Regions from separate parts of the Homo sapiens genome. Here regions 2, 3 and 4 are each linked to region 1. The links come from fine-mapping of genetic effects on gene expression. A gene starts in region 1. Each other region holds a variant in brackets. All regions are shown on one strand. Distances are between the middles of the regions.

What was found. PIP is the estimated chance that this variant, and not a neighbour inherited with it, causes the effect.
Region 2: its variant is the best candidate, but not a certain one, in a credible set for the expression of PRPF6 in whole blood (INTERVAL, PIP 0.72).
Region 3: its variant is the best candidate, but not a certain one, in a credible set for the expression of PRPF6 in whole blood (TOPMed, PIP 0.63).
Region 4: its variant is the best candidate, but not a certain one, in a credible set for the expression of PRPF6 in whole blood (TOPMed, PIP 0.66).

The regions. Positions count from the first base shown.
Region 1 is chr20:63,977,742-63,982,872 of GRCh38, reverse strand. It overlaps PRPF6 (pre-mRNA processing factor 6), which reads right to left and starts at 1,741. Exons shown (of 21, transcript NM_012469.4): 1 at 1,557-1,741. The coding sequence starts at 1,627. SAMD10 (sterile alpha motif domain containing 10) reads left to right here and starts at 3,231. Exons shown (of 5, transcript NM_080621.5): 1 at 3,231-3,496. The coding sequence starts at 3,406. RefSeq lists silencers at 1,447-1,556, 3,117-3,436 and enhancers at 2,627-2,686, 3,282-3,797, 3,783-4,077.
Region 2 is chr20:64,014,853-64,020,857 of GRCh38, reverse strand. PRPF6 (pre-mRNA processing factor 6) reads right to left here. Exons shown (of 21, transcript NM_012469.4): 12 at 4,013-4,135. Among named protein-coding and RNA genes, the nearest start is that of C20orf204, 18 kb to the left of the region's middle. RefSeq lists an enhancer at 2,960-4,159. The variant G/A (reference allele first, on the strand shown) is at 2,149.
Region 3 is chr20:64,005,530-64,013,748 of GRCh38, reverse strand. PRPF6 (pre-mRNA processing factor 6) reads right to left here. Exons shown (of 21, transcript NM_012469.4): 10 at 3,431-3,549; 11 at 2,246-2,464. Among named protein-coding and RNA genes, the nearest start is that of C20orf204, 27 kb to the left of the region's middle. RefSeq lists an enhancer at 1,108-2,307. The variant C/T (reference allele first, on the strand shown) is at 3,527.
Region 4 is chr20:64,050,208-64,058,426 of GRCh38, reverse strand. It overlaps a transcript of TCEA2 not described here. Among named protein-coding and RNA genes, the nearest start is that of SOX18, 4.7 kb to the right of the region's middle. RefSeq lists enhancers at 1-657, 658-1,347, 2,038-2,727, 2,728-3,417, 4,798-5,487 and promoters at 8,011-8,219, 7,803-8,219. The variant G/A (reference allele first, on the strand shown) is at 5,967.

The sequences.
Region 1 (5,131 bases):
AAAGTTTCAGCCTACCCTGATGATGTTACCAAGGCAATCTCTCTCCACCCTAAGGCTTCGATCATCTCCCCCTCCACATCCAACCAGGCCCTTAAACCCAACTTGGCCCACACTGAGCTCTTCCGTGCCCACCTTACAGCTGCTCTGGGGGGTTTCAGCTGATAACAGCTGTCCCAGATGCCACGGGACCATGATGTAATTTTTGCCTCCCTCTCCCACTTTCCCCATCCTGTCTGTCCCCAAGTACTAATGAATCCACTTTCAAAATCCCTCCTTCCCAGACTATGACTCCCATCACAGCTGGAAACCAAGTTACCTCTCCCTGCCTTTAGCCTTCCTCTACTTCAACCCATGCTCTGCCAGATGATTCTTCCCAAAACACAGCTCTGAGTAAAAAATTCTGGGCCGGGCGTGGTGGCTCACGCCTGTAATCCCAGCACTTTGGGAGACGGAGGCGGGTGGATCATGAGGTCAGGAGTTCAAGACCCCCCTGGCCAACATGGTGAAACCCTGTCTCTACTAAAAATACAAAAATTAGCCGGGCGTGGTAGCGGGCACCTATAATCCCAGCTACTCAGGAGGCTGAGGCAGAGAACTGCTTGAACCCGGGGGGCAGAGATTGCAGGGAGCTGAGATCGCACCATTGCACTCCAGCTTGGGCGACAGAACAAGACTTTGTCTCAAAAAATAATAATAATAATAATAATTCTGAAGGGTCATGATCTTTCTAACGTCTCCAGGAGCTCTAGCCTGACGCTCAAGGCCCCTCCAACCTCCTGAGCTCTATTCTATTCGCTGTACATTCCACTCACACTGGACTCCCTCCTGTTCCCTGGGCTTCCTCCTTGCCTCACTTTTTTTGAACTCCCACACGCAGAATGTCAGTTTCTCTTCTATCGTCACCGTTTCTACAGCCCTAAGTCCAGCTCTCTTACTAAACTTGGCTCCAATGCTACTCTCCATTAAGCACTGGGTTCTAAATCTGGTCCTCTTTACGTACTTATTTATGGTAATAGCAAACCCTCCTTAGTGAGCTTGTGTGTGCCCCACAGATTCCAATATAATACCACCACCAAGAAAAACCCAGTAGTGTTCCTCATCAAATGAATAGCCAAATAGGATAATAACGACTGCTCACTTATCCAGCAACGCACGGTGGTCATCTGTGTTGCAGGCATAGAGGACCCAGGCACGCTTAAGGCGGGGCGGGCGGGCGGGCGGGGGGGGGGAGTGTCAGCCCGACCTGAGGAAGGTGGTCGCGTGTTTCCACTACACGTCAGATTCCTCTACTCCTCACTGCAGACCGTATACAGCATTACCCATCTTACAGACCAAAACACTGGGCTGAGAGTCAATGTGTCACATCTAGGCGGCAAGCAGGGTGCACACACAGGTATGTCCTGACCCCAAAGCCCGTTGCTTCCTGCAGGGATTAAGCCGATCCACCAAGCGTCTTTCAGACTGCGCGGCCATAGACCCCCGCCCCCAAACACGCCCCAAAGCACTGCGCTCCTGTAGCCGGGTCCCCGCCCCTCGCGCGCCGCCCCAGGCCTCACCCCCGGCCCAGCCCCGGCACGTAGCCGAGGGGCGCGGGCATCCCTAGGAACGGTTTCTTCTTCTTGTTCATGGTGGCGGCGACGACCAAGGCTAGGAAGGAAAGGAATGAGGCAGCGGAAGAGGGAAAGACGCAGAGACTCTAGGCTTCGACGTCCGATGCACTCCGTAGCAAAGTGTCGCCGTCGTCGCGTCACCCGCGCCCCGGAAGCAGAGCGCTCAGTCCGCACACGCCCCGCCCACTTTTGATTCCCTGGGCGGAAGTCCCGACGTCCTGGTTCGACGACTTCCGGCCGCGGCTAGGGGGCAGGAACGTGGTAGGCGCGTGCGCGGGAGCGCCTCCTCGTGGAGAGGCGGAAGAAGCTAGGTCGAGCTTGCACTGGGACCCTAACTGGCCCCTGGGGGCTAAAAACAGCCTGGGGCATTGCTGCTTCCCGAGTGCTCTGATGCAGTCCGGAGACCTGTCTGTGAGAGTGGGACCCATGGTCCCCTCCCTCTGAACCCATGGCCCCCTCCCTCTGAACCAGCCCAGCTGCCCGCCCTCGCCCCTGGTGCGCCCTGTCCGAGCAGAGCTGTACCCTGTCCAGTTGTGTAGAGCTTGTGTGTACTGGTTATGGGCACACCTGTCTGTGTGCGTCCTGTGCGCACACTGCTGCCCTACGCTTTTAGCACTCATATTCTTGAACCCCCATTCAGGCATCTGTCCCTCCAGTGGGACTAGAGACCCCACCCACGCCCGCCAACATGCCTTGGACATTCTGGTGAGGGCCACATCCTTAGCTCCTGGAGAGCTAATTGACGAAATAAATAACCGCAGCTGAGCTGTCGGGAACACGTCAGTACATGAACATGGCTGTCAAGCATGTGGGTGAATTCTGTGTGTGTGATTAGTGGGGTGTGTGCACAGAGGTCACGTGTGCTCGTGTTTTGGGTGCAAGTGCATGACTGTACTCTGTGCATGCATTTCTACATGTCTGTGTGCATCTCTGGTCCTCCTGCTGTAAGACATCCTCCAGAGCCCCTACATACACCCAGGGAGAGCACCCAGGCTCCTGGGCAGAGCAAGCCGAATAGCTGGTTGCAAGCCTGGCCTGCTGCTGCACCAGGCAACCACAGTTCCCTAGCCCAGCCCCATCTCAGCACTTCTCACTGGAGTCCTGGAGCAAACACACCGCTCCGGCCTGCTACAGCCTCCTTGGAGTTCCCCTCTGCCCCATCTCCAGGCAAGCCAAGCCCCTTTCAGTTACAGAGCACTGTACCGCCCCCTCTCCCCCGGGCACTGAGCCAGGTTCTGGGGCTGCAGAGGGAAGGGAGAACCACCCTGATGTTCACAGTGGGGTGGGCGGTAAGCAAGAGTCAAGCTGGTTTCTCCGGGGAAGCGGGTGCCTATTTGAAGGCGAGTAAAGACGTAGGAGACCGAGGAAAGTGTGTGGGAGGCGTTGACCTGCCCCTTGTCCTGGCCCCGGTAGGTAGAAGACCCCTGTGAGATGCCCCTCAGCCCACCCCCACGCACAGAGGGGCCCGACCTCAGAGGACGCCCGGCAGGTTCACGGGGACTCTCCTCCGCGGAGCCGTGCCCAGGGGCGCACGGACGCCCCTCGCCCTGGCGGACAGCCTTGGTGCACGCAGGCCCGCGCGCCGCCGACACACCTCGGAGCTCCCGGAGCGCGCCCGGCACACAGGGCTCGGCGGCAGGTGCCTCGTCGCGCACACTCGCGGGCCGCGGGGACCGGCTCGGGCGCGGGGCCGGCTGGGGCGGGGCGGGGCGGCGGCGCGCGTTCCCCGCCGGCCACACCGGCCGCCCTGCACTCGGCGAGGGGCGTGTGCGCGGGCCTGGCACCCGCGGGCCCCATGTTCACCGAGCTGAGGTCCAAGCTGAGCCCCCCGCGTGGCCGCGCCGGGGCCGTGCGCGCGGGCTTCGGGGAGCGCCGGGATGTGGACGGTGAGCGGGGCTGGATTGGGGAGCGGGGATTTCTCGGGCGGGGGTCTCAGGGACCCAGAGGCACGGGGGCGGGGCGGGACCCGGCGGGCTTCGAGCGGCGGTGGCTGGGGGTATTCGGCGGATGTCTCGGCTCAACGGGGTCCCGTAGCCTTTGTCCTGCTTTAGGGGGCAGCCAGCCTCAGGCCTTGGGGGTCAGCGCGCCCTTGGCTTGGGGTGAGGGGGTGTCAAGCCGGGGCGCCTGTGTCCAGGCTGGCACTACGCTCGGGTCACCTTTTCCTGCGCACGGGGAAAACCCTCCCCCGCTTTTGCAGTGGGGCCGAAAGGGGGCCGAGGTCACATCCCGCCTCGGTGCCCCCGCCCCATTTCCTTCTGGAATCCTGACGTTGGGGCGGGAGGGACCGGACCGACAGACCGCGGGACGGACGGAACTCCCTCCGGGAGTGCAGGCAGGAAATGGGCGGAGCCTGCTTGGCCGGGGCAGGTGCCGTGCGGGCTGAGGAGTCCGACGGGTTTCCCCGGACTGCCGCGCGCTTCTGCACCAGCCCCGCCGCTCGAGGCCCTGCAAAGCCCGGCGACCACGGCGCCTGTCCGCTGGAAGGCGCGGGCTTAGAATAAGCCTTTTCCCACAGCACTAGGGGCCACCTCGGGGCGGTGGCCCACTGAGCACACCCTCTGCTGACCCCAGACCTCAAATTTGGAGTCACCCAGGGGTCCGGTTCCTGAAAGTTGCAAGAATGGGGGCGGAAGGTGTTATGTCTCCTAAGTCTTACAGGCGTGGGAGGACGGGGAAGTAGGATGTGGTTTTCACCGATACTTAGACCTCCTAGACACATCCCCAACCCCTGCCCTGGGTGTGGAGTGGGTGGCTGAGTCTGAGGCCGGGAGGGTCTCTCACTCTAGGGTGGATGGGATGAGGGCCCTAGCGTGGGAACCTCACCTGCCCTGCTGAAGGCCTGGGTGCTAGGGTGCTGTAAAGACAGGGGCAGGCCTGTGCCCACCTTCTGTCTCCCCACAGGCTCTGTTCACTTGCAGATACCATACAGAGCCTTCATTCATTCATTCATTGACAATGAATGTGGGGTGCCCCTCTGTAACCAGACCTGGATCAAGACGCCTGCCTCCCCAGACTCAGGTCAGCAGTGCCCCCAGAGATGATGACAAAGCTCAGATGAAACACTTTAATGCAGTTACTGTGGGAAGAGGGAGCACAGAGCATCACCGTGGGTCCCCAAGCAATGGCTGCACCCCACATACCTGTGCTGACCCGCCCATATCCAATGGGTACCCACCATTCACATGGCCGGTGTTGTCCCGGGCTGCAGGCCCTGTGGGGGGCGGCACAGCTGGAGAGCCCAGCGCGTGTTTGCGGAGTGAGCCCTGCTTGTCAGTTGGCCCACAGTTCAGGCTGTCAATGAGTCATAGTCAGTGAGTCGGGCCCCAACACCAGATAGGGCTGTGTGAACTGGGTGCCTTCAGTGGCGATGGGCAAGCAGCATCCTCAGCCCGGTTTCCCCAGCACAGACGACCTCCCCGGACTCGGGATCTGCCTTTCCTCAAAGCAGGCCGTGTGTGCACTTCCTGGTCTGGTGTGGTGTGTGCAAGACTTGTGGGCCAGCCCAAGGCAAGGGTGAGGTC
Region 2 (6,005 bases), 38 kb before region 1:
CCAAGATTGCGCCATTGCGCTCCAGCCTGGGCGACAGAGAGAGACCTTGTCTCAAAAAAAAAAAAAAAAAAATTAGGTATAGTATATATTTACCACGATAAAAAGTTACATTAATTAGAAACCTGTAAAAGACAAGTGAATACAAACAGGAAAAAACCCATCCACTCAACAGAACTACAGTAAACACAGTTCTATTTTCTTCAGGCTTTTTTTTCCCTATACTCAAGAATGACTTTATCTTTTGGTTAGCATCAACAACAAAAGAAAACAAAAAAGCCAGTCACCATTTGCAGCGCTAAAGCCTCTGGGGGTTCGTCTGACTGGCGATCATGACACCTGGAGACTCACTGGGCCAGGTTCAGACACCTGTTCCCACTCAGCCTCACACAGGGGCAAGTCACCGTCCTCTGCGCCCTGCAGATGCTGAAAGGATTTTTTTTTAAAGACAGAGTCTCGCTTTGTCACCCAGGCTGGAGTGCAGTGGCGCGATCTCAGCTCCCTGAAACCTCCACCTCCCAGGTTCAAGCAGTTCTCCTGCCTCAGCCTCCCAAGTAGCTGGGATTACAAGCGCCTGCCACCACACCCAGCTAATTTCTGTATTTTTAGTAGAGACGAGGTTTCACCATGTTGGCCAGGCTGGTCTCGAACTCCTGACCTCAAGTGATCCACCCACCTCGGCCTCCCAAAAGTGCTGGGATTCCAGGCATGAGCCACTGCGCCCGGCCGCTGAAAGGATTCTTGTACCAAGAAGGAGTTTGTTGCTGAAGGTAAGTGAGAGGCCACCAGGAAGTGGGTCAGGAACAAAGTTTTGCAACTATGAACATGACAATGGCAAAGATCTGGACTGGCAGCTCAAAGCTGTCCAAGTCCCCACACAGGGGCACCCAAGAACAGTTCCCAGAGGAACAGCTGCCTTCTACGAGAGGAAGGGACAACAGTGAGCCTCCCAGTTAAGGAGCCCCAGCATGAAAATGGGTCAGGAGGACGAGGAGTGGGGATGTCACTGAGATTTCTTCACTCAGACCTGATGCCTCCCAAGTCACATGGCTTCAGTCTGACTCAACCAGCACAGAAACCAGCAAGGGCCCTGCCTCAGGCACTGTGTCCTGACCAGGAGCATCTGAGGGGGTCAGGGAGGATGCCGGTGAGGGTCAGGCCCTGGATAGAGCACTCTGGTCTATGCCCCTCTCTGTGATTTCTGATCCAAGTCCTGAGGGTTGGTGACAAAGCATTTCAGATTCTCCATCGCCTCCTTGGACCTTCACAAGCAACCCGAGAGTGGCCTGAACACCCACAGGATCAAGTGATGCTGTGCCCAGGGCCCTGGTGTCCGGGAGGGAAGCAGCACCACAGCACACTTCTGGGCACAGAAAACACTGTCCTCCTTACTCTAGCATCACGAGCACTTTGAAAAACAGCTGTGCTTACTCCAGTGTATGTGAAAGAGATGACAAAATAATAAGAGAAAAACAGGCCAGGAGCAGTGGCTCTGGGAGGCTGAGGCAGGTGGATGGCCTGAAGTCAGGAGTTCGAGACCAGCCTGGCCAACATGGCGAAACCTCATCTCTATAAAAAATATAAAAATTAGCCAGGTGTGGTGGCAGGCACCTGTAGTCCCAGCTACTCAGGAGGCTGAGGCAGGAGAATTGCTTGAACCCTTGAACCTGGGAGGCGGAGGTTGCAGTGAGCCAAGATCGTGCCACTGGACTCCATCCAGCCTAGGAGACAGAGTGAGACTCTGTCCCAAAAAAAAAAAAAAAAAAAACCAACAACAAAAACTATTACCGCTGCCCTGCGTCTTAACTCACCTAAGGATTGATGTGTGTATTTTAGCATACATGGGGCAGGAGGATGGCCCAGCCGGCACACAAGCTCTGGGTCACGCCACACGGGGTGCAAAAGAATCATGTGTGTATCACACGGTCAATGCCAGCAGTGGGGTCTGATTCCAAGGACCAAAGGAGGAGCCATTGACCAATCCAGATGGAAGGAAGTGAACGCACACGGATGAAGGAGAAAGTGAAGCTCTTCGTTACTGTAGAATTCCAACTAATAAAATGTAAGAGAAACTGTTCACAAAATCATTATGCAGGTGTGACCAGGCACAGTGACACGCCTGTAATCCTACATACTTTGGGAGGCTGAGGT[G/A]GGATCACTTGAGGCCAGGAGTTCGAAACCAGCCTGGACAACATAGTGAGATACTGTTTCTACAAAAAAAATTTAATATATAAAAAAAGATTTAAAAAAAATCACCATTTAGCAAACACCACAGAAATAACTGATTCAGGCCAAGAAGCATCATTAATGGATCCTCAAAATACTTATTAATAATAACAAAGAAACAAACAGCAACCATACAGTGGAAACACCTGCGGCCACTGCCCGCACCAGACGGTCGGAGTTGAACAGGTGCACACCTCTCCGTATGATGCACCAAGAAGCCTCAACCCAACCCGGAGGAGACACCACAGAGAACCAGATGAAAGAGGAGTCTACAGCATCACTGGCCCGTGGTCCTCAAAAAATTCACACTCAGGAACAACAAAGGCTGAGGCTCTCTTCCAGACTAGCCTGAGGATGACCCTGTATTCCTCACAGAAGACAGTTGGTTTTTTCTTCTGCTAAAAGGACACAGAGACAACGGGTGAGACTTTTTCTTTTTTTGAGATAGGGTCTTGCTGTCACTCAGGCTGAAGTGCAGTGGCGCAATCACAGCTCACTACGGCCCCAAACTCCTGAGCTCAAGTGATCCTCCCACCTCAGCCTCCTGAGTAGCTGGGACTACAAGCGTGCACCACCATGCCTGGCTTTTGTTTCTGTAAAGATGGTGTTCTGCCATGTTGCCCAGGCTGGTTTCAAACTCCCGAGCTCAAGCGATCTGCCCATCTCGGCCTCCCAAAGTGCTGGAATTACAGGCGTCAGCCCCATGCCCAGCCTGTGGGTGAGATTTGAGTAAGGTCTGAAGTTACCTGACAGCACTGTCCCAACATCAATGTCCTGATTTTGATAACTGAGCTATGGCTGTGTAAGAGAACGTCCTCTTTTAAAGAAATACACACCAAAGTGTTTAAGGTAAAGGGCACCACATCTGCAACTCATTCATTGTCAAACAGTTCCAGAAAAAAAAATAAGAGGTAAGTGCATGAGAGCGAACAGAGTAAGAAAGCAAATCTGCGGCCAGGCGTGGCGCCTCACGCCTGTGATCCCAGCACTCTGGGAGGCCGGGCGCGGCGGCTCATGCCTGTGATCCCAGCACCGTGGGAGGCCGGGCGCGGCAGCTCACGCCTGTGATCCCAGCACCGTGGGAGGCCGGGCGCGGCGGCTCACGCCTGTGATCCCAGCACTCTGGGAGGCCGGGCGCGGCGGCTCACGCCTGTGATCCCAGCACTCTGGGAGGCCGGGCAGGGCGGCTCACGCCTGTGATCCCAGCACTCTGGGAGGCCGGGCGCGGCGGCTCACGCCTGTGATCCCAGCACTCTGGGAGGCCGGGCGCGGTGGCTCACGCCTGTGATCCCAGCACTCTGGGAGGCCGGGCGCGGTGGCTCACGCCTGTGATCCCAGCACTTTGGGAGGCCAGGCATGGCGGCTCACGCCTGTGATCCCAGCACTCTGGGAGGCCGGGCGCGGTGGCTCACGCCTGTGATCCCAGCACTTTGGGAAGCCAAGGCGGGGTGGATCACGAGGTCAGGAGATTAAGACCATCCTGGCTAACACGGTGAAACCCCGTCTCTACTAAAAATACAAAAAATTAGCTGGGCGTGGTGGCACATGCCTGTAGTCCCAGCTACTCGGGAGGCTGAGGCAGGAGAATGGCGTGAACCCAGGAGGTGGAGGTTGTAGTGAGCTGAGATAGCGCCACTGCACTCCAGCCTGGGCGACAGAGCAAGACCCCGTCTCAGATTTAAAAAAAAAAAAAAAGAGTTTTAAAATAGCCTAGTAGTTTATAAGGTGCCTGCTGTTCCCACAAGCAGAGACTCCATATTACGGACAAAGGCCCCTGTTGCCAACTCACACTGTCAGCATCCTCCATCCAGGTATGCTTCCGATCTTCCTCCTCAATCCCAATCCCAATCACGGCACGCATGACGGCCTGGCAGGTGGCCACACTCCCAGCCCTGTCACATTCCTCGGCATCCTGAAAGAGGAACACAAAACTTATTTGTGATTTTGGAAATCAGAGCTGCAGATTCCCAACGGGGAGTACGGAGTTCCTGAACGGTTAAAACTGACAGACATCAGCACAAGATGCTGACACTGCCTACTGGGGATCTGAGGAAGTGAGTCTACTGCACGCCAATCAGAAAAAACAATAGAGAAATGTCACAAAGGACATAGGCACACTGTTCACTAGAAAATAAAAATACAAACAACTTTCAAACATGTGAAAAGAAATGTAAAGCCTTTTTATTTTATTTTTTTAAGAGACAAGGTCTCAGCCAGGTGTGGGGGCTCACACCTGTAATCCCAGCACTTTGGGAGGTCGAGGGTGGATCACGTGGTCAGGAGTTCGAGACCAGCCTGGCCAACCTGGTGAAACCCTGTCTCTACTAAAAAATAAAATACAAAAATTAGCCAGGCGTGGTGGTGGGTGCCCGTAATCCCAGCTTACTCGGGAGGCCGAGGCAGGAGAATCACTTGAACCCGGGAGGCGGAGGTTGCAGTAAGCCAAGATCACGCCACTCCACTCCAGCCTGGGCAACGGAGCAAGACTACGTCTCAGAAAAAAAAAAAAAAGAGAGAGAGTCAAGGTCTCTCCCTGTCACTCAGGCTGAAGTGCTGTGGTACAATCATAGTTCACTGCAGCTTCCAACTCCCAGGCTCAAGGGATACTCTCACCTCAGCCTCCCGAGTAGCACAGACATGCACCACCATGCTCAATGGTACATTATGTTTCATAGATACAGGGTCTCCTTATGTTGCCTAGGCTGGTGTTAAACTCCTGGTCTCAAGTAACCCTCCTGCTTTAGCCTCCCAAAGTGCTGGGATTAGTGCATAAGCCACCACACCCAGCCCCTATTCTTATTTTCAAGATGCTAATTAAACTATTCTAAGTACCATTGTGCACGTATCAGATGAGCAACATTGAAACATGTGCTGACTGGCTCACTTGGTGAAGGGGGCATAAATCTTATACTGCAAAGAAGCACATATCTCTATGGAGGGCAATTTCTCATTCTCTATCAAAATAAAACAGGCACATATTTGACCCAGCAGTTCTACTTTAAGGCATTCATGTGACAAATATATTCCCATGTGTGCAAGAGAATGTGTCTACCAACAAGAGAACAATAACCCAGCCAGAGCAACAGGGTGCAGGAGCACAGGCACCACTGCGGCATGCCAACATGGGGGACCACGACATGGACCGTGAGCAAAGTGCAACCGGAGCCACATGCCTCCCAGACCCTCCCAGGGCCCTGCCAGCACCAGAAAACCATCCCAGACAGAAAGCAGAGCCAAGAGCAAGGATCTGAGGCAGAGACGCTGGCACAAAGGTCAGTGGTGAGAAGAATGCGTGGGGCAAGGACCCAGCACCCAGACCCTCAGGGGCCTGCGGCAAAGGTGCTGGCTCTTCCTCCATGGACAGTTTCTACTGAACGCAAACTGCGCTGGCTCTTCCTCCATGGACAGTTTCTACTGAATGCAAACTGCTTTTGAACCACGGCAAAAGTCAAACCATGGGAAGTCAGGGACCATCTGTAGTTGCAAATCATGTCTCTGATAAGTGACAATATATCCAGAATATATAAAAACATCTCTTACAACTCAATAATAAAACAACAGACAAAAATAATACATAGACCATAATAAAGACACAATCCAATGTAAAAGTAGGCAAAGGATTTCAATACCTCCATGCTACAACATGGAGGAACCCTGAAAACACACTAAGTTAAGGCCAGTCACAAAAGACCACGTGTCGTGTGATTCCACTCACGGTGTCGGACGATGCAAAAGCCACCACGCTCAGTAGAAGCAATACTTTGACTCAAACCACCAGTCTG
Region 3 (8,219 bases), 29 kb before region 1:
CCTGTCATATGCTGGGTATGGCAGCTGATGCCTGTAATCTCAACACTTTGGGAGGCTGAAGTGGCAGGATTGCTTAAGGCCAGGAGTTTAAGACCAGCCTGGGCAGCATAACAAGACAAAAAATAAAAATAAAAAAAATTGGCCAAGCATGGTGGCACACGCCTGTAGTCCCAGCCACTTGGGAGGTTAAGGCGGGAGGATTGCTTGAGCCCAGGTCAAGGATGCAGTGAGCCATGACTGCACCACTGCACTCCGGCCTGAGCAACACGGCGAGACCCTGTCTCAAGAAAGAAAGAAGGAAAGAAAGAAAGAAGAAGAAAGGAAGGAAGGAAAGAAAGACAAACTGTCATAAAATATAACAGAAAATAGTAATTTCATTATTTATTTTTCTTGAGAGAAACATAACTCAGTGGGTGACTCCTTAAAAGAAGGCATTAGAGGGAACCCAAGCCCTACTTCCTAAGTTAGATCATCTTTGGAAACTTTTCTATAGCCTTAAGTCTACAGACAAAGATAAAAGACAGGGAAGACCAAGGCGGGCAGGTTGCTTGAGGTCAGGAGTTCGAGACCAACCTGGCCAACATGGTGAAACTCTGTCTCTTCTAAAAATACAAAAATTAGCTGGGTATGGTGGCGGGTGCCTGTAATCCCAGCTACTCAGGTGACTGACGTAGGAGAACTGCTTGAACCCAAGAGGTGGAGGTTGCAGTAAGCCAAGATCGTGCCACTGCACTCTAGCCCTCTAGCCTGGGTGACAGAAAGACTCCCTCTCAAAAAAAAAAAAAAAAAAAGGGTGTGGGGGAGAGGGGAAGAGTAAAAGAAGCCATGAGACTTCCTGTCCTCCTCTCGTAGGTGTATCATTTCTACTAGCAAAGAAAGAAGCCATGAGACTTCCTGTCCTCCTCTCGTAGGTGTATCATTTCTACTAGCAAAGAAAGAAGCCGTGAGACTTCCTGTCCTCCTCTCGTAGGTGTATCATTTCTACTAGCAAAGAAAGAAGCCGTGAGACTTCCTGTCCTCCTCTCGTAGGTGTATCATTTCTACTAGCAAAGAAAGAAGCCGTGAGACTTCCTGTCCTCCTCTCGTAGGTGTATCATTTCTACTAGCAAAGAAAGAAGCCGTGAGACTTCCTGTCCTCCTCTCGTAGGTGTATCATTTCTACTAGCAAAGAAAGCCGTGAGACTTCCTGTCCTCCTCTCGTAGGTGTATCATTTCTACTAGCAAAGAAAGAAGCCGTGAGACTTCCTGTCCTCCTCTCGTAGGTGTATCATTTCTACTAGCAAAGAAAGAAGCCGTGAGACTTCCTGTCCTCCTCTCGTAGGTGTATCATTTCTACTAGCAAAGAAAGAAGCCGTGAGACTTCCTGTCCTCCTCTCGTAGGTGTATCATTTCTACTAGCAAAGAAAGAAGCCGTGAGACTTCCTGTCCTCCTCTCGTAGGTGTATCATTTCTACTAGCAAAGAAAGAAGCCGTGAGACTTCCTGTCCTCCTCTCGTAGGTGTATCATTTCTACTAGCAAAGAAAGAAGCCGTGAGACTTCCTGTCCTCCTCTCGTAGGTGTATCATTTCTACTAGCAAAGAAAGAAGCCGTGAGACTTCCTGTCCTCCTCTCGTAGGTGTATCATTTCTACTAGCAAAGAAAGAAGCCGTGAGACTTCCTGTCCTCCTCTCGTAGGTGTATCATTTCTACTAGCAAAGAAAGAAGCCGTGAGACTTCCTGTCCTCCTCTCGTAGGTGTATCATTTCTACTAGCAAAGAAAGAAGCCGTGAGACTTCCTGTCCTCCTCTCGTAGGTGTATCATTTCTACTAGCAAAGAAAGAAGCCGTGAGACTTCCTGTCCTCCTCTCGTAGGTGTATCATTTCTACTAGCAAAGAAAGAAGCCGTGAGACTTCCTGTCCTCCTCTCGTAGGTGTATCATTTCTACTAGCAAAGAAAGAAGCCATGAGACTTCCTGTCCTCCTCTCGTAGGTGTATCATTTCTACTAGCAAAGAAATGCAGTCAGGTGTGCACACACTGAAAGGGCTTCTGAAGTGTTCACCCCAAGACGAACTCCAGGCCTGAATCCATCAAGAGCGACAGTGGGCATGCCCAGGTCCCTCAGGGCCCATTCACACCTGTGCCTGCTTCTGGTTTGGCACAGGACTCCCCAGTACCATCCAGCAACCCCCAGTCCTGCGTGGGACTCTCACGTGCTGCATGTGCACTGTTAAAGCAGACACCACGACACCCGCCTGCGGCCCACCTGGATCCACTGCTCACGGTTGATCTCCACACCGTTGGCCCGCAGCGAGGTGATGGCTCGGTCGATGATCTTCTCCACCATCTGCGTGTTCCCATTGGCTTCCTCCAGCTTAGCAGCCGTGATCCAGATATGTCGGTCTGTAGGAATGTTCTCCCGCGCCTTGTTCAAGACCTTGCGGGCATTTTCATAGGTCTCCAGCCTTGCCAGAGCAAGCCAGAGCTACGCGGAGAGGACACGAGAAAAAGGAGAGGACACTGTGCTGGGGGGACAGCTGCAGGCCAGACAGCGACCCACCCTCCAGCGTTGGCCACCACGTTCTTTCTTAGCTCTCGAGAACCATCTGAACATGGCCTGAGAAGTGTCCACAGCAGCACTTCTCACCTGACCAACTGTTCCTTTATGCTTCTGACTCATTTAGTGACTCTCGTGAGCATCAAAAGATTCTCAGTTGAATGTTCACAAACACAGCCTCCAGGCACACAGCACGCCAGACCTGATACCAGGGGCTGGCACAGACGAGCAGGATGAGGCTACTGCCCTCACAGGCTAAACACACAGAAGGGTGTTCAGCCTCCTGAAGTTCCCAGACCCTTGGTTCTGCAGCATTCCATCCCTAAGATGTGTACGGGCTTTATTCATTTTTATGTAAATAAAATAAGATTAATGTTGTTTGGAGAATTTCACAATACCCCTTAGGATAATTAAAGACATACTAGGTATCATAAAACCAAGACTAAAAATCACTGCACAGAATGCTGTGAACTGGAATGCTTAAAACCAAAGAAATCCCACTTAGCTTAGAGGCAAAGAGCAGTCATGCGGAGCTGACAGAAAGCAATGTTTTCTATCACGCTGCCACCTTCGGCTCCCATGACAAACTCTGGGCTGCTGAGAGGAAATGGCCCCTGAGCAACTGCCCAACAGAGAATTTTCTGCAGTGGTCAGGTATGAGCTAAGATTCTCCCTGCACGTCCATTAAGAGCACAGCTAGCTGAGGCCACTGACCACCCTGCCTAGCGGCTATGTACAGAACGGCATCCTGGGGTTCCACAGGGCCTTCTGCTCCCAGAAATTGCAGCCTGAGTGAGCTCAATGCTCCACTTGTATCATCACTTCCAGACACTGAACCTGGGCTCAGGCCTTGGCCACTTTGGGCTCTGGTGGCCCTGAGCCCGCCAGACTCACCTCCACGCTGGTGGGGCAGCACTCCACAGCTCGGCTCAGCATGATTCTAGCATCTTCAGGTTCTTCCAGCTCAACGGCTGCTTTCCACAAGCGAAC[C/T]GAGTTTGGAACATGCTCGAGGGCTAGGAAAGGTCAAACGAGAAACCACGTCACAGAAAAGGAGATAAAAACAGGAGGCTCATGTGGTGAGCATGCTGCTGGTCAGGATGAGACGGACTTCCCTGGTTGACAGTCAGGGACCACACACCTGCCCTTTATGTGGCTTCCTTCAGGTCTGGGGCAGACACAAACAAGGACAAACGGAGCATCTTGTGGTAGCAGAAAGCAAGGAAGTGACTGAAGACTGCCAGGGTCATATCAACAGGACTCAGGAAACCAGTGACCACGGGAATGAACCTCAAAAACATGCTGAACAAAAGAAACCAGTCCCAAAACAGTTTATACTATATGACTCCCTTTATGTGACGTCTGAAAAGAGGCAAAACTAATCTTGGTAAAATAAGTCAGAAGCATGACTGCCAACGAATGGGGATAGTATGGATTGATTGAGAGGCACCAGGGGACTTTCTGCGGGGATGGAAATGTTTTTGTTTTTGTTTTGAGACAGAGTCTCATTCTATTGCCCAGGCTGGAGTACAATGGCACGATCTCAGCTGACTGCTACCTCCGCTTCCTGGGTTCAGAGATTCTCCTGTCTCAGCCTCTAAGGTAGCTGGGACTACAGGTGCGCACCACCACGCCTGGCTAATTTTTGTATTTTTAGTAGGGACGGGGTTTCACCATATTGGCCAGGCTGGTCTCAAACTCCTGATCTCAAGTGATCCGCCCGCTTCGGCTTCCCAAAGTGCTGGGATTATGGGCGTCAGCCACGGTGCCCACCCTGGAAATGCTCTATGCCTTGGTCGAGTGTGGGTTACAGGGGTGCATGCACTTGTGAAGACATCAAACTGCACACTTAAGATCTACGTAATTCACTTCAAATATTTACGAAAAAATGCCAGTGTCTGAAATACCTCTCTTTTTTTTTTTTTTTTTTTTTTTTGCGATGGAGTCTCGCTCTGTCGCCAGGCTGGAGTGCAGTGGCGTGATCTCGGCTCACTGCAACCTCTGCCACCCGGGTTCAAGCGATTCTCCTGCCTCAGCCTCCCAAGTAGCTGAGTACAGGCGTGCAGCCACCATACCCAGCTAATTTTTGAAATTTTAGCAGAGACAGGGTTTCACCATGTTGGCTAGGATGGTTTGATCTCTTGACCACATGATCCGCCCGCCTCGGCCTCCCGAAGTGCTGGGATTACAGGCATGAGCCACCACGCCCGACCTAAAATACCTCATTATTACATGTTTTCCCTTAAATAAAAATACCTAAAACTTAAAAAAAATTCAAGAGCAAACTAGAAGAGACTTCCACTGGACAATGATCAGAGAGTCTGAAGGTCAATAAGCATATTAAGAATATTACCTGCAATGTATTCAAACCCATGAAATACCACAGCATTCAATAGTTCATAACAAAGCTCCAAGAGACCATTAGTCACCTTTGGAGAATGCTAGAGAATCAACGCATCATCCCGAAAGTTGAAAGGAAGCAAATCAAATATCTATTCTGTCTTTCCCAAATAAACTCAGAATAACCAAATCATGGATATAGGAAAATTCTTCTCTTAAGAATAATTCTGGCAATAAAAGCAAAGAGTGACCTAATTATAATGTCACCGTTTTGCACACCCTAATGAAGGAACAGATGCGGGCACGGGTCACCAGCCACTGCCAAAGGCAGGAGCTGAAAGGCTGTGGAGAACTCCATGAAGGACACTGGGGCCACTGAGCAGTGACAGCCTCTGCAGCTCCTGACGCTGCTTGCATTGCCACGAATATTTCCTTGATAAAAAAAGAAAAAAAAAACACAAAGCTTACTCTTATGAGTCTCCAAATCTACCTTCCAATTTACAAGAGGATACAGGAAACAGAGGATACAGGAAACGAGACCCACATGAAACAATCTCACAGGCTGCAGTGAGCAAACCCTGATGTGAGGAATCTCAAGGAAAAACAACCCAATTCCATCAACAAACCGAGAGAAGACATCAACCAAACGGCAATGTTCAGACTTTGCTTAGATCCTGATTCAAACCAACCATGTGTGCATGTGGTTATGCATGCATGTGCCCGTGCAGGTACTGACATGACAGCTGGAAAAATATGAATGCAGTAGACATTTAATGATGTTAAGAAATTAGGCCGGGCCAGGTACAGCCCGTAGCTCACGCCTGTAATCCCAGCACTTTGGGAGGTCGAAGTGGGCAGATCACCTGAGGTCAGGAGTTCGAGACCAGCGTGGCCAACACAGTGAAACCTTGTCTCTACTAAAAATACAAAAATTAGCCAGGTATGGTGGCATGCACCTGTAATCCCAGCTACTGGGGAGGCTGAGGCAGGAGAATCGCTTGAACCCAGAAGGCGCAGGTGCAATAAGCTGAGACTGTGACACTGCACTCTAGCCTGGGTGACAGAGAGAGACTCCAACTCAAAAAAAAGAAAAAGAAATTAGGCCAGGCAGCTGATTGTGGTGGTTCACACCTATAATCCCAGCATTTTGGGAGGCTGAGGTGGGAGGATCGCTTGAGCCCAGGAATTCGAGACTAGCCTGGACAACATGGCGAAACCCTGTCTCTACAAAAAATACAAAAATTAGCTGGGCGTGGTGGCATGTACTTGTGGTTCCAGCTAGCTGGGAGGCAGAGGTGGGAGAATCGCTTGAGCCCAGGAGGTGGAGGTTGCAGTGAGCCAAAACTGCACCACTGAACTCCAGCTCCAGCCTAGGCAAAAGAGGGAGACTCAGTCTCAAAAAAAAAAAAAAGAGGAAAAGGGCAGGGCAGGGGAGGGGAGGCGGGGAGGGAAGCGGAGGCGGGGAGGGGAAGAGGGGACGGGAGGCAGAGGGGAGGGGAGGCGGGGAGGGGAGAGGGCAAGTGAGCTAGCTCTCCTGCAGGTACCTGCTCTCCTGCTGAGAAACAGCCCCAGGCTGGCTGTGAGGCCCTGGCAGGGAATGAACACTCAGCTAAGGGACATAAAATGACTGAGCAACCTGCTGCCCACTCCAGGTGTTACTGACAGACCAAGCCACAAGGTTGGGCAGATGCAGCAGTGGCCTCATAGGGTGGAAATGGCACCCAGGAGATGGTGTGGAAGGAAGGCAGGTGCAGCACAGCTGCCTAAGCTATGGGGCAGATGCCTCCTGCACTGGTGGCTGCTCAACCGCTTTCCTCCCTCAGCCCACACTGACAACCTCTGGGGAGTCCCTTAGGGTCAAGGGACTGAGAAGACAAAAGTCTGCTGTGGTTTACGCATGGTTCTGCACAGCACACTGGCACTGACACCCCTGGCCTTATTATCTGGATGTCCACTTGACCAACTGAAAGACGGCCAGAAGACGAAGCTATATGAATTCACCGATTCAGGCAGAACATGGTCTTACCATGTGCCCATCACTCAGAGCCATGGCCTGGCAGCCCAGTAGGATGCCACAAATGCTGTGAATAGACACCAATCCCGGCTGGATCTCACAGCCAGAACACACGGGTCTAGGAATAAACAGTGATGTCTGAATGGCTCAAGTCCCATCTCCGCTGCCACAAGTCCCGTCTCCACTGCCAAGAGTCCCGTCTCCGCCTCCTTGGACCCTCCTGTCAAGAGAGCTGGTCCAAAGGCCGGGTGTGGTGGCTCACATTTGTAATCCCAGCACTTTGGGAAGCTGAAGCGGGTGGATCATGAGGTCAGGAGTTCGAGACCAGCCTGGCCAACACAGTGAAACCAAACCCCATCTCTATTAAAAATACAAAAATTAGTCGGGTGTGGTGGCAGGTGCCTGTAATCCCATCTACTTGGGAGGCTGAGGCAAGAGAATTCCTTGAACCCAGGAGGCGGAGGTTGCAGTGAGCCGAGATTGCGCCACTGCACTCTAGCCTGGGCAACAGAGCAAGACTCAGTCTCAAAAAAAAAAAAAAAAAAGAGCAAGCTACGAGCTACTCCAAAGGGAGTATGTGCCAACCAGGGTGCAGACCACAGCTCCCTCTGGCCTCCTCATGTACCAGCCCTGGCTGGAGAGGCTAACCCTGACTCCCAAAGCGAGACTGAGTTGCTGCCACCCACTGTGGGAGACTATCTAGAGGCCAGTCCTAAAAACAGTTTAGTATTTCTGCTTTTACCAGTAAAAGTTAATGGGAACTACAGCCACCAAAAAAGCAAAACTACCAACAAGTCAGACCCTTTGGGGATAAAGATATGGGTCCTGGCTGAGCACAGTGGCCCCCATCTGCAGTCCCAGCATTTTGGGAGACTGAGGTGGGAGGATCACTTGAGCCCAGGAGTTTAAAACCAGCCTGGATGACACAGGGAGACCTCGTCTCTTTGAAAAATTAAAAACTCAGCCAGGCATGGTGGTATGTCCCTGGAGTCCCAGCTATTCAGGAAGCTGAGACTGGAGGATAGTTTGAGTCTGGGAGGTTGAGGCTTCAGTGACCCATGATCATGCCACTGCACTCCAGCCTAGGCAACAGAGCAAGATCCTGTCTCAAAATAAAAATTATTTAGGCATGGTAGTATGTACCTATGGTCCCAGCTACTCAAGAGCCAGAAGCAGGAGGATCACTACAGCCCAGGAGGTTGAGGCTGCAGTGAGCTGATTGCAACACTGCTCTCCAGCCTGGGCAATAGGACGAGGCTCTGTCTAAAACAAAAAAAAGATTTGGGTTACTCATCCAGGTCAAGAACCCTGACCAAGCAGGGTGACAGCAGA
Region 4 (8,219 bases), 74 kb before region 1:
TGGGTCCCAGTGGAGGCCCACAGAGGCTGCAGACGGGGAGGTCAAGATGCTGTGGCGTCTTAAGGACAACGGCTGGCAGGTCGGGGATCCCTCAGGAAGGGGTGTCAGCCGTGGGCCCAGCCTACGGGGCTGCATTAGGGCACGTGGGGAGCCTGGTCGGACAGGTGTGGATGGGGTCACTGGTGGCCTGGTTCATGGCAGGGGCAGGTGATGGAGAGAAAGGAGCGGACGGGACAGGCAGGGAAGGGGGTTAGCAGAAGAGGTCGGGTGCCTCTGACCTGCGGGCCGCAGCCACTCCGCTATGACAGGAGCCCCGAACCCTGACATGCTCTAGTCCTGCGTGGAAGCAACTACTGCAGGCGGAGAGGTGTAGGCCCATCCTGGTGATCAGGGAACCTGCAATCCGGTGGGATGGTCCCGCCCCCGGGCAGAGGCAGGTGACTGGCCCCAGAGCCTGTGAGGAACAGTGGCCTCTAGGTGGCAGGAGTGAGCCACGGACGGGTGGGCCTCACTTCACCACCACCCCACCCCCAAGCCCCAGGGAGGTCCAGGTGGTTCCCAGCAAGAGCCACAGCTGCCCCCCAGGACTGTGAAGTGGCCGAGGTGAGAAGGTGGCCAGTCCTAGAGAGTGGCCTCGTTTGTGAGGGCTGTGGCGGCGACCAACCCTGAAACTCCCCAGTGCCCCTGGTCCCGGGTCCCTCAGGAGCTCTGGACTTCTGGGACCTTGCTCAGAGCATTCTCGCCCCCCAGCAGACCCCTCCTGGAGCTTACCGACCTCCGGACTTCCTCCTCCACGGAGCTTCCCCAGCAAGCTGCTCAGGGCCGCCAGACGCTCCCGGGCCCTCAGAATTTGCACCCAGAGGCTGACAGCATCAGAACCATCGATTCTCCTGTGGGGCCTCGCCGCAGGGTGCTGCTCCAGCCCCTACTCCCGCCCTCGGCAGCTGAAGAACTTTCCCTCCCCTGTGCGCAGGCACACATGCACACGCACACACGCAGGCGGGAGCCTCGCACACACGGGGAGCCACTGCGGACTGGTTGGCGAGTGTCTGTCTCTCACCCGGCCCAGAGGCAAGGCCTGGATCCCTCAGCCGCGTTAGGGCTACGGTTAATGTTCGGTTTCGGTTAAACCCTGAGAACAGGCGGAAATGCACGTAGCCTGAAGGGTGGCTCACAGCGGAGGCAGTGCCCACGGAGGAGAGGGACGTTCACTCACCCGCTCCAGGCGCTGGTCCTGGGAGCCACAGCCACATGACGTGCAGGTGGAGGGGAGAGGCCTCCTGACTAGGAGCTGCCACAGGGTGAGGAGTGCCTCACTCCCCTTCACGGACCCAGCGGCCGCACGACACCAGGCTAGGTCTCTGTGGTCACCTGCAGCCAGCCTCACCGGGGGCCGAGCCCCAGCAAACAGGAGGGTTCCATCTCCTCCTCCAGGGTGTCCTCCACACTCGACGTCTTTATGGACAGGGACATATGGATAGGCCTTTAGGAATTCTCTGTGGGCAACGGGGCCCTGTCCTGAGGGCTCTAAGGGGGAGATGTGACCCACCTTGGAGGTCTGAGGGGGCAGCCCTGGCCCCAACAGGCGTCTGGGGAGAAACCCCTGGTCCACCCCACAGGGCCAGCCGCACCTTTGGCCCAAAGGCCTGCCCCTCCCCCATCCTGAGTCCAGGAAACGTCGGAAACTCAGGCCATTTATTTTTCTATTTGTGTCCCCTGCCCCCTGCCCGCCCAAAGCCGGCCATGACCCCAGTGGCCGCTATCCATGCTTCCCCTCTGGCTGAGGCAGCGCCGTGGTGGGAAGGCTCCCGCTGCCAAACTCACACGGAGCCCCCCTTGCTTCCTGCAACCACAGAGCGGGGGCTGGGGATCCTGCAGCCCCAGGAGCCCCCACCCCCTGCCACCCCATGGGCAGCCCTCCCACAGCCCAAGCACCTAGGAGCCGTCTCTGCGCCCCTTTCCATCAGACCCTCCAGCCCACCTTGGGGGCTCTGCCGAGCTGTGACCCCAGTGGACCCCACCCAGGCCTCCCTTGGATGCCCCCACCAGCAGGGCAGCGACGGGGCTTAGGTCCAGCAAGTGCTCCCCTGTCCCATGCGCCAGCAGAGGAGGGCAGGGGATGGGGACTGGGCCCACTGCTCCTGGCTATGCCACTGCAGCACCCGGCTCTCTGGACCTCAGTCGCCCAGTCTGTAGAATGGGAAGAGCCACCTGCCCAGGGCAGCGTCTCTCGGAAAGTCCCCAGCCCAGCCCATAGCCTTGGCCCAGTCCCAGCTCCCTCCCACAGAAGCAACGCTGGGGGAGGCAAGAGGCATCCCCAGAGGCCAGTGGCGGCCCTGGCGGCCTGCTCCAGGCTTGCTCTAACAATGCACTTCCCCCACACAATTCCCAGAAATGCAGCCCTGCCAGCCCGCCAGCCTGGCGGCCACTCCACCCTCCCCTTCCCCAGAGGCCCCAGGCAGCCGTGGGGTCGGGGCTATGGGTGAAGCCTAGAGACCTGACTCACAGGGCAGCAAAACCAGGGTTCCCTGAGGCGGCACCTCCCAGGGGCCCAGGCCTCCCAGAGAGAGACCAGGGAGACTCCTGGGGCAGCCAGATGGGGTCTGAGAGCAAACCTTGGCCAGGCTCCCGCCGCGGCAGAAGCAGAGCCCCCTGCCTTCTGGCAGGGGACTGCCCGTCCCTCCTGCCCCGCACAGCCCCGTCTTCACGTAGCAGCTGAGCTGAGGCAGATCACACTCCACTCAGAACCTCCCAAGGTCCCACCTCACTCAGAAAATGCAAGACCCTCCCAGAGCCAACTCAGCCCCTTGTTCCCTCTGAGCCTCATCCCCTCCTCTCTGCACCCCCTGCTCTGCTCACACCAGCAGACTTCCCTGCCCCAGGGCCTTGGCACATGCTCCTCCCTCTGTGAAAAGACTCCTCCCATGAACCCCCAAGGGCAAAAGCCACGTGTGGCCCTGACACAGCCCCTCCCTATACCTGATGAACCCCCAAGGGCAAAAGCCATGTGTGGCCCTGACACAGCCCCCCTCCCTACACCTGGCACCCCAAGTTCTGGCTTGTTTGTGGATTTGTTTTTGGTTAGGTTTGTTTTGTTTCGTTTTTGTTTTTTGAAACAGTCTTCCTCTGTCGCCCAGGCTGGAGTGCAGTGGTGCGATCTCGGCTCACTGCAACCTCCACCTCCCGGGCTCAAGCAATTCGTGTGCCTTAGCCTCCCTACTACCTGGGATTACAAGCATGTGCCACCACGCCCAGCTAATTTTTGTTTTTTGTTTTTGCTTTTGTCTGGAAACAGAGTCTCACTCTGTCACCCAGGCTGGAGTGCAGTGGTGCGATCTTGGCTCACTGCAACCTCTGCCTCCTGGGTTCAAGCGATTCTCATGCCTCAGCCTCCAGGGTAGCTAGGATTACAGACATGCGCCACCACGCCTGGCTAATTTTTGTATTTTTTTTTTTTTTTTTTAAGTAGAGGCAGGGGTTTCACTATATTGGCCAAGCTGGTCTCGAACTCCTGACCTCAGGTGATCCGCCCACCTTAGCCTCCCAAAGTGCTGGGATTACAGGCATGAGTCACCACACCTGTTTGTGGATTTGTTGATTGTCTGTCTCTTCTCACCATAATGGAAGCTTCCCACAGGCAGGGACCTGTCTGTTTTGTTCTCTGCCAAATTCCTAACCCCTAAAACAGGGTCTACTACACAACAGGTGCTCAATAACAAATGGATGGATAGATGTTGCCTGTCCCTGAGCAAGAAGGGGTGGATGAGCCCCCAGAACACAGGCCTGCCCCCTCCAGCCTATGTGGCAGCCCCAGCTGGCTGTCACCAATGCCAGGACAAGCAACAAAAAGAAACACACAGCTTCAGGCATCCGGCCCTGCAGTGCCCCTCCGTGGCTGGGAGACAGATGACCCCTGAGGATGTTCTCCCTCTCCCGACTTACCAGCCTGGCAGGGGAGAAGGAGGCTGGGCCAGCCCAGGACAGGGTAGTCAGAGTGGACACTGCCCTCCAGGGACCCTGGGGACCGGAGTGTGCTAACACATGCCCCACGGTGCAGGGTACACTGAGAGCCCCATCTGGGCCTCTACAGAGCCACAAATGGACTGGGGCTCACATAAGCACAGGACCAGGTCACCCACAGACCCAAGCCCAAGTCACCACGGTCTGAATAAAGGCAGCCATACAAGCATGGAGGTGGAGACAAGGGTGGGGCCAGCGGAACTTGGGCAGGAGCTCCCAGCCAGTGGGGGCCGGGGCCGCAGCACAGAATGTCTGGCGCCTGCTCAGCCCAAGCTGGCCCCAGGCCCCCTCCTGCAAGGCCGGCCTTCCTTCCTGAGCTGCAGTTTCCTGGCCCCTCCCTGCTGTTGCCTCAGAAACCCGGAGCAGCCCAGCCCCCCAGCCTGCTTCCCATGGAACCCCCCCAACACACACACACACACAAACATCACTGGGAAGGCCGCACAGCAGGCAGCAACACCCAGGGACACAAGCGGCCCTGCAGCCGCCCCCAGGGCAGGACACCCCAAGGGCCACACAATGGCCCCCACGGAGCTCAAGCAGCTGCTCTGACACCCCGACTCTTGCCCAGTGCCCCTAAAAGTGGGCACAGCCCTTGATAACACCCTAGGTACATGCCCACCACAGCACAACACCCCAGAATTTGAGAACAGCTTCCACATCACCAGGGCCCTGGGAGCACCTACAGAAGCCCCGCTCGCCGCAGATGACCCGACCCCGACTGTCCACAGCACATCTGCTACCCGAAGCCCAGCATCACCCTGTGCATTCAGCACTCCCACCCCCACCAGCCCCCTGTGGCCCTCGACCCAGAGAAGCCCCTACCCCTCTCGGTCCTGCTGGCCCTTAGCACCGAGTAGAAGAGACCCTGACACCACACGACGACTGACACCTGACACCACACGACGACTGGCACATCACCCCTTAGACTACAAAAGCACCCCACTCACACCGCACACCCCAGCCTGCAGGCCCCAGCACAGCCCCCTGCACCCACACCTTCAGACCCTTCCCCACTCGCACCGCAACCCCAGCTCTGCATGCAACTCTCGGGTCCGCTGGACTGCGGCAAATCGTCAGGTGAACCCTAACCCCACACCTAACAGTTGAGAGGCGCCGCCCAGGTGAGCAGGAGCATGTGCACCTCTCATGCCTGCTCATGCCTAGGAAAGCACAGGCACCTCCTGCCGCCCCACCTGCCCTCTCCCAGAGTTGAGGCCGGCAGCTATCGGAAGCCCGGTGACGCTGTGCACACCAGGACTGAGAGCTGGAAGGCACGGAGCCAGGAGAAGCCTCTGTCCCTGGGCAAGGGCCACCTGAACCGGACCTGTCATTGGCCAAGAGGGACATGCACACAACTGTGTCCACCTGGTGCTGAGGCGTCAGGCGGCCTCGTCACAGACCCTCGCCCCAGCTTCACATTCTCCCTGCCCTGGCCTCTGCCATGTCTCACTAGGCCTGGAGCCGCCACCCCAGGACAAGGCCCACTAAATACAGAGCTCCTGAGGAGTCAGACATGCCTCCACGGGTCCCAAAGGAAGCCTACCGAGGCAGCAGACAGAAGGAGACCAAGATGCTATGGCCTCTGGAGGACAGTGGCTGGGAGGTCGGGGGCTCCCTGTAGGAAGAGGTGTTCAGCTGTGGGCAGAAGGTAGGATCTGAACTGGAGAGAGCCGAGGTTCGGGAGGCCAGAGAGCCCCCTCCACCTGAAACTGCATCCAACAGGAACCCCCACCTTCACCCTTGAGGAGCAGGAGGGTCCAGGCCCTGCGGGACTCGGTAATTGGTCCCAGCCTCGCTGCTCTTGCAGCCGCAGGGGCTGGGCTGGTGGGATCCTGGGAGGTCTGTGCCCAGGCAGTGGCTGGGAGGTCCTGCCATCCCGGCCCAGAGCCGCGCCAAGCCAAGCTCCCACCCAGAGCCACGGAGGGGGACTACCCAGCATCCTTTGC[G/A]GACCTCACTCAGAGGCCGGGGTTCCTGTCCAAGCTGAGGGAGAGGGGCAGGTGGCAGGCAGGAGGACAGTGTCCACTCAGTGCCCAGGCCAGCCCCACCCTTGTAGAGAAAGCTTGCCCCCAAACTCTGCCTTTCTGACTGGGGCTTGGGGGCTACAGATAGGCTCCTTCCCAAGGGTGGGCCATAGCCCACCTAGTCCAGGACAGACTGAGGTGGGGTTCCAGAGGCAGAGGAATGCCCCTAGACTCATGAACTGCCTGCCCTCTTTTGGAGAATGCTGGGGCCCAAGCTCAGTGGCCAGAGAAGCCTTGGGGACCCTCCAAACTTCACGGAGCAGGACCCCTGGTCCTGGACCTATTATGGGTCCTCATCTCTTCCTGGGAACGTCCAGCTTGCCTGGCTCTCAAGGCCCTGGGCAGCCTCCAGCACTAGAGTCCCCCTCACCCCACACCCAGGCAGACAGACAGACACAGGCCACACACAGATGCACAGACACACATCGGATGCCCCTCCCTCAGCACAGCTGGCCACACCCACACCATCCCCTCTACAGCCCTGGCAAGTCCCCCCAGCCCTGCGGCTCCAGATCACGCCACCCTGGCTGTGGTCCCTACCCCCACTTTGTCCCATCTGGACACTGGGCCAGGGCTGCCAGCCTCCTCCCTGCCACGCAGAGGGAGAGGAGCACCTCAGGAGGCTCCCCGCCCAGCCCCGACTCACAGGACATGACAGCCGGACACCTGAGTCCACAGCCCAGCCAAGAGGGTGGGTCACTGGCTGGCGCCAGGCAAGGCGGCTGCTGGTGGGTGTTGTGGGGGACGTGGAGGCGATGAGGTCATGCCGGACACTGCCTGCCACTATGTTTAGAGCAGCTCCAGTGACTCTGGGCTCTCGGGGGTGGCAGAGGACCAAGCAGGGCCCCCAGGGAACTGCAAATCCTTCCCCACGTGTGAGGGCTACTGCAGAGGACCCCGAGGACCTCTTTCCCAGGCCGCAGTGACCAGCCACTGCCCAGGCTGAGCCAGGCCCTGGTGACCCCTGACTGCAACCCTAAGGTTGTGAGTAGAGAGAGCTTCCGCCAAGTGGTAGCCCTTTGGGGTCTTCGCACGGCTCCCCACCCCCCCTGCACCCTCCTGCCAGCTGCCCAGGAGGCCCACCCACACTGAGACTCGGCCAAGGGTCCAGCCACCCATACTGAGATTAAAGGAGGACTAGCAGCATCCGGCAGAGGCCTGTGAGCCCCTCCATCCCTGTGGCCACAACCCTGCCTGCCTCCCCAGAAAAGCCAGGGGCCGCACCTCCTGGTGCCCCACGGGCCCCCCATTAGCCAGCACTGGCTCAGTGTCTGTGAACGAGGTGCTAGGCCCGTGGGGCAAACTGGAGGGACGGGAGATCTGGAGACCAGACTGGGAGACCCAGCCCCGTATGCTGGGACGATGGGCGTCGAGACAGACTGTGATGTGGGGCTTTGGGGAGGGCTGGACACCGACCGCGACAGCCCTCGGTGGGAGTGCCCCTGTGGGGGTGCTGGCCTCAGGGCAGGAGTGCCCCTGGGGACAGTTCAGGAACAGCCTCTAAGGGGCACTGCAAGGCCCACGTGGGGCCCACCCCATTCATAACACAGGCTGGATGTGGCCTAGCGAGGCTGGCAGGGACAGAGAACCAAGAGCTTCTGGCCACACAGGCTCAGGGTCACAAGACCTGTGGCCTCTACCCATGGGGCTCCCGGCATAGTGTGGCGGGGGGAGCTGGGGAGCCTCCAGGCTATGAGGAGATGTGCCGCGAGGTGGCGAGATTCTGACCCTGCCTGGAGGGCTGCTGGGGACACCCAACCCTTCTCCAGTAGAACCATGCGTGGCAGTGGGAGGGGAGGACCTCCAGAGGGAGACCCTCAGCTCTGGAGCCCAGATCCCCTCCTGATGGAGTAGGAAGGGGACAGTGAAAATTCAGGAAGCTGGACGCTCCTCCGGAACCCGCCCCCGCCCAGGTCAGAGGGTCCAGGGAGGGGCCAGTGGGAAGGACCCAGGTAGGCCCTGCCTCTTGCTGCAGCGGTGGCCTGGGCTGGGCAGGGGAGCCAGCAAGCCACTGAGGGTCCCAGCCCCTTCCCCAAGGGCCCTTGGGGGGCAGGGAGGACGCCACAGCCTCTGCGTCCCTGCTCCCCCTTCTCTTTGTGGGCTCCGTCCAGGGCCTCTGCTCTCTCCCTCCCTGTGTCAGCTTTGCCTTGTGCCAGAGTTGGTTTGGGAGTGAGGACA